Regions from separate parts of the Homo sapiens genome. Here region 1 is linked to region 2. The links come from fine-mapping of genetic effects on gene expression. A gene starts in region 2. The other region holds a variant in brackets. All regions are shown on one strand. Distances are between the middles of the regions.

Region 1 (3,016 bases), 40 kb after region 2:
CTGTCTTTTCAGCTTGCAAGGAAGGAGGGTCCGAGGCAACTCCGCTGTTGCACATTTAGGGACCCCTGAACTTAAATGACAGAATGCCCTGACCACTCTGGAAGGCACTGTGTTCATGTTTGTGTGCTTGACTCTTGATCCGTAAAATGGCTGTTTGTGCAGGTCATTAACTGTGAGATTCAGAGAGTAGGTGCACACGTCCCTGCAGAGATTCCAGCAGGACTGAAAACCAGTAGAAATATATCAGCACCTGGATCTTGCCTCCTGAGTCAGTAAGGATATGCCACAGTCACGAAGGCAGTGGGATTTCGAGGGAGGGAAGGGAAGGCGGCAGGCGGGGCATGCCCTCCGGGGTGCCCGAACACACCTGCTGCATCCACATGTCTTCAGAGCCCTCTCCCTGTGGGAGGCCTTTTTCAGGACAGCCTTGGTGAACTGGAAACGGAATCCCAGCCCTTGGTGGCCCTGCAGTGACTTGGACCTTTCCGAGGTCACCCTGCCACTGCGTGCCCTTCAGTCCCTCCTGGCAGGTGGGGGCACATCCCCCAGCCACTCCCATTTCCTGACATTGTCACTTTGTATAACTGGAAGCCTTCTGTGAAATTTTAGTTTTCAAAGCATTATCTGGTGATGGGCAACCCAGGGCAGCGAATCATTCAGAATTTTCTTATCTAGGCTAATAAACATAATAAAATCAATAAGGACTTTGAAAGTAACTCCACTGGGTTCAGGAAACTGAGTGTGGCCGCCCTGTGGGGTGGTGTTTGGTGAGTGCTTCCCGGAGGTGAGTAGTTAATTCACAGGAGTGACTAATGGCAGCGTCCCACTCACTCCTCCTTCCGGGGTCATGGTCTCAAGGGGTCACTCCATGCACTGGGGATGTCAGCTCATTACAGAATGATATATTCGGGAAGTGTCTCAGTTCTGAGTGCCTTTGAGGGAATTTGCACTTCCGTTCCCACACAGCCTTGCATTGTGTGTGTTAGAGGCTGTGGGCCTTGGGCAGGAGGGGTGAGTGTTGGCACATACCTCCCGTCTCTCCCAGCCTTCTCTGACTCTGACTTTCCCTCTTGAAGGCTACCGGCTCTCTGACCAGTTCCACGACATCCTCATTCGAAAGTTTGACAGGCAGGGACGGGGGCAGATTGCCTTCGACGACTTCATCCAGGGCTGCATCGTCCTGCAGGTGACGGAATGGCTTCACGTGGGTTTGTGGTGGTGGTGGGAGGGGCTTGCTTGCCAGCGTGATGCACCTGACCTTCAATCTAAGGAGCTGGGCATGTGTAGAATTAGTTTTTGGAGCTTATAAAAGTGAGTCTCATCTTTGGAGAAGTAGCCGGTTAGTGAAGTGTGGACAAACATGTTTTCCTCCCCTTGGAAATGGCACAGAGCAGCCCATCTGCAAGACGTGGTTTTTCAGTATCCGGTGGGTTATTTACATGTATGTTCTGGTGTTGTGGTTTTTTTTGTTTTTTGTTTTGTTTTGTTTTGTTTTGAGACCGAGTCTCGCTCTGTCACCCAGACGGGAGTGCAGTGGCACGATCCCGG[C/T]TCACTCCCACCTCTGCGTCCCGGGTTTAAGCAATTCTCCTGCCTCAGCCTCCCCAGTAGCTGGGATTACAGGTGACACCCAGCTAATTTTTGTATTTTTAGTAGAGACGGGATTTTGCCATGTTGGCCAGGCTGATCTCAAACTCCTGACCTCAAGTAATCCGCCCACCTTAGCCTCCCAAAGTGCTAGGATTACAGACATGAGCCACCATGCCTGGCCAACTATGGTGTATTTTTACAAAAACTTTTATTCTGAGAAAATGGGCACGTTTTCTGTTGTGGTCATCACTGTGTCCTGCCGTCTGTGTGTGAGGTCAGCTGTGGAGCCTGTGGTCGCTCAGGCCGCCCTCAGTGGGGTCTCCGAGCTCTTCCCGTGCACTCCAGTGTCTGCAGGAGCTGGTAATGCACCCTGACCTGCAAGGCAAGCTCCTTGGTGGTGTCTCTCCTGCTGGGCTCTCTTTGAGACCCACGGGAGATGGAGAGCAGGGCTCAGGGGACCCGCCTGGGAGCTCCACACAGACCTCTGCTGCTGTTTGCAGGTGGTGATCCAGGTCTCTACCCAGGTTCCTCAAGGTCCTGTCTTGTTGGCCTTGGAATTCAGTGAGAGATAGGAACAGCATGGGGTTTTTAGAAATAATGTGGAAATTTGGAAAACGTTCCCAAATTGTTTATTCTGTATAATAATTAAGATGCTAGATCTGTAAAAGTGAGTTTCCTCTGATTTGGCATGGATGCATCAGTCCCTGTTCTTCAGGGATTTGTTGGAGAACCAGGTCTGTGAACATGGAAGCTTCAAAACTCTACGGTTGGGGACCCTTTCCTGCCCCTGCCTCTCGGGGTTCCTGCCAGGTTGGATGACATTTTTACAATGTTCTCTGAACACTTTCAAAAAAGTGTAGGCTGGGCCTGGTGTCGCATGCCTGTAGTCCCAGCTACTCAGGAGGCTGAGGCAGGAGAATCACTTGAACCCGGGAGGTGGAGGTTTCAGTGAGCCGAGATCACACCACTGCACTCCAGCCTGGGTGACAGAGCCAGACCCTGTCTTAAAAAAGAAAGAAAAGAAAAAGGGAAAAGATGCCGTGTAAAATCTCGTTCTGTGTCTGAATTGCCGTAGGGCTCAGATCTTCATTTGAGGTTCTGTGTCTGAATTGCCGTAGGGCTCAGATCTTCATTTGAGGTTATGTTCTATAAGTTAACGTTGATCTTGTGTGAGCTTTCGGTAGCTGGAGTAACACAGGCGGCCTCACAGCGACCTCTCCAGCGCCTTCCAAGGCACATCTGCAGCCAGCGTAGCTCCTCCTGGGAGATGCCTCCTCAAGGCCCTGCTCCAGACCACGTGGGGAGGGCCTGACAGCCAATTCCCAGGCTGTCCCCACCCTTGGAGAGTGACCCTAAACGCTAGACAGATGGGGAATGGGAAAGAAAAGAAAGCTGCAGACCTCAAGTTAAAATTCCCTCAAAAACGTTT
Region 2 (2,728 bases):
CACGAAGGCAGTGCTGTCTTGCGGGAGGCAGGGCTGCACCACCACCGGGGTGTGAAGGGGCCCAGCAGGCAGGGGTGTGAAGGGGCCCAGCAGTGTTTCCAGCTGCACGGGGTCAGGGGCCGCGCTGATGCAGAGCACGGGGGCGCAGGTTAAACCTAAAGGAGGGAAGCTTTTGGGGGCGGAACAGACAACCGAGAATGCTGCACACTGCCTTTCCCACCCGAATTGTGTTTTGACTTTTTTTTTTTTTTTTTTTTGAGACAGAGTTTTGCACTTGTTGCCCAGGCCTGGAGTGCAATGGCCCGATCTCGGATCACTGCAACCTCCTCCTCCCGGTTTCAAGCAATTCTCCTGCCTCAGCCTCCCGAGTAGCTGGGATTACAGGTGTGCACCATCACGCCCGGTTAGTTTTGTATTTTTAGTAGATACGGGGTGTCTCCCAATTGGCCAAGGCTGGTCTCGAACTCCCGACTTCAGGTAATCCACTGGCCTTGGCCTCCCAAAGTGCTGGGATTACAGGCGTGAGCCACCGCGCCCGGCCTGCTTTTGCTTTCTTTTTTTTTTTTTTTTTTTTGGCAGAGTCTCGCTGTCCACCCCTGTAGTGCAGTGAGCTCGGCTCCCTGCGGCCTTGACCTCCCGGGCTCAGGCAATCCTCCCGCCTCAGCCCACGGAGTAGATGGGACCACAGGAGCCCACCACGCCCGACTACTTTTTGTAATTTTTGTAGGGATGGGGTCTATCCATGCTGCCCAGGCTGGTCCGAACTGCTGGGCTCAAGAGCTCCGCCCGCCTCCGCCTCCCAAAGGGCAGGGATCACAGGTGTGAGCTACCGCGCCCCGCCCAGAGTTTCCGACTGTTAGCAAATCACATTCACCTCAAAACTATTTATACAAGAACTGAAAGGCAAACTAAGTCCGTGCTCCATCACTTCCTGTCCCAGGTCGCGGGGCCGGACATTTTCTCCAAGCGCTTTCCTGGCACAGCGCGCAGGCGGCCTGCGCCAAAGCTCTGGCTTCCTCCAGGCGCCCAGACCCCGCCCTCCCCGCAGGCGCCAGGGCGTTGCCTGGCAACTTAGCTGCGAGGGGATTGGCTGCGCGGGACCCCGTGACCATCCCGGAGACCACGCATTTCCTGCGCCCCCGGAAGTGGTGATAATGCCAGGCCCTGCCCCCGGCAGAGGCGGAAGCGGAGTCGGCCTGAGAGGTCTCTCGTCGCTGCAGGCGCCTCAGCCCAGCCGCGTGCCTTGGCCCATGGCCGCCTACTCTTACCGCCCCGGCCCTGGGGCCGGCCCTGGGCCTGCTGCAGGCGCGGCGCTGCCGGACCAGAGCTTCCTGTGGAACGTTTTCCAGAGGTGCGGCCTGGCACCGCCCGGGCACCTCCCGCCTCCGCCGCGGCGGCCCCGACCCCTGTCCCGACTCCCCCGACCAACCCCGTTCCCTGCCGGTTCTACTGCGGCCTCCTCCGTCCCCTGTCGGGTCCCCCGCGGCCCCCTCCCGTCCCCTGCCGCCGCCCCCGACCCCTGCCCCAGCCGACGCGGCCGCCCCCGTCCCCTGGCGGGTCCCCCGCGGTCTCCCCCGTCCGCTGCCCGGTCTCCTGGGGCCGCCCCTGCCTCCTGCCCGGTCCCTGTCCTGTGCGTCGGGCCCTTCCCAAGATGCAGAGTGCGCCACTGCAGACCCGAGGTCGCGGCCACCGGCTCCTGGGCTAGGCCCTTTTTCTCGCCTCAAGAGCCGCCAGGTGGAGGGTCTCCAGGGTGCTTGTTTGGGGAAAGCGGAAACAGACTGCCTGGGCGCTGTTAAAATGTCAGCAGCCAAGGAAGAAGCAGCGACCTGGCGTCTGCTCGGGCCAGGTGACCTTTATGGCGGCGCCTTCTGTCCCTGGTCGCTTTTCCACCGAATGTCCGAAACTGTAGTGACTGATGGCCAGGGAATGGCTTAGTTATCTGAGGGAATCTTGTCTTGTCTGTGAAAAAGGGAAACGGGTGCAAATGGGAATTCAGACAGGCCAGGAGAGGAAGGAAGGGAAGGATTGAGGTGAAGATGATTGTCCTCTTAGGGGAAGACCACACTGGACGTCGGCTCCTGGGGCACTTCCTTGATTCCGCTGTACTCCTCAGCGGGACGGGAGAGGCGGAGGTTCCAGGAGGGAGCCTTCCAGAGTCGGTGCAGGGTTGACAGAAGACGTTTGTTTTGCTTTTCCTGAACTTTCGATCGCCAGCTTATTTGGTCTTCTTGATGTTATAGGGTCGATAAAGACAGGAGTGGAGTGATATCAGACACCGAGCTTCAGCAAGCTCTCTCCAACGGTGAGTGGGCCAGTGGGAACTGGGTCTCCGGACCAAGAAGCCGCGAGCCTGCCCTGTTCACAGTGGATAACTTTCTGAAGTTGTTTTTCCAAGGACAAAGGAATCATTAGGACAAATTGTTATTACTGCTTCGTAGTGGAGATGCTTCTGGTTTATTTTGTGGCTACCGCTGTTACTGCTTGGAGTGCCTCACCGAGCCAGCTAACAACTGCGTGCGTGAGCACAGGGAAAGGCTTCTTGAGAAATGAAAACTAGATTGTAGGTTTAGGAGGGGAATAGGAAGCTTAGCTCTGTACAGCCGAAAGCCTTTTGGTAAGTTGGAGGTCCTTGAATTTCCTGGGTGACTGCATCTTGGTGACTTCTCTGAATAGACCTTCGAGGGCACTGGGGGGTGATTGTTGGAGGGCTTGGGGAGCTCAGGCAGCC

What was found. PIP is the estimated chance that this variant, and not a neighbour inherited with it, causes the effect.
Region 1: its variant is fine-mapped to the expression of PDCD6 in whole blood (TOPMed, PIP above 0.99).

Annotation. Positions count from the first base shown.
Region 1 is chr5:310,217-313,232 of GRCh38, forward strand. It overlaps PDCD6 (programmed cell death 6), which reads left to right. Exons shown (of 6, transcript NM_013232.4): 5 at 1,077-1,186. All of the region lies in intron 3 of PDCD6-AHRR (PDCD6-AHRR readthrough (NMD candidate)), which reads left to right. Among named protein-coding and RNA genes, the nearest start is that of AHRR, 10 kb to the right of the region's middle. The variant C/T (reference allele first, on the strand shown) is at 1,549.
Region 2 is chr5:270,471-273,198 of GRCh38, forward strand. PDCD6 (programmed cell death 6) reads left to right here and starts at 1,176. Exons shown (of 6, transcript NM_013232.4): 1 at 1,176-1,351; 2 at 2,241-2,302. The coding sequence starts at 1,251. PDCD6-DT (PDCD6 divergent transcript) reads right to left here and starts at 1,054. Exons shown (of 2, transcript NR_104613.1): 1 at 875-1,054. PDCD6-AHRR (PDCD6-AHRR readthrough (NMD candidate)) reads left to right here and starts at 1,176. Exons shown (of 13, transcript NR_165163.2): 1 at 1,176-1,351; 2 at 2,241-2,302. RefSeq lists enhancers at 1-217, 879-968 and a silencer at 1,259-1,468.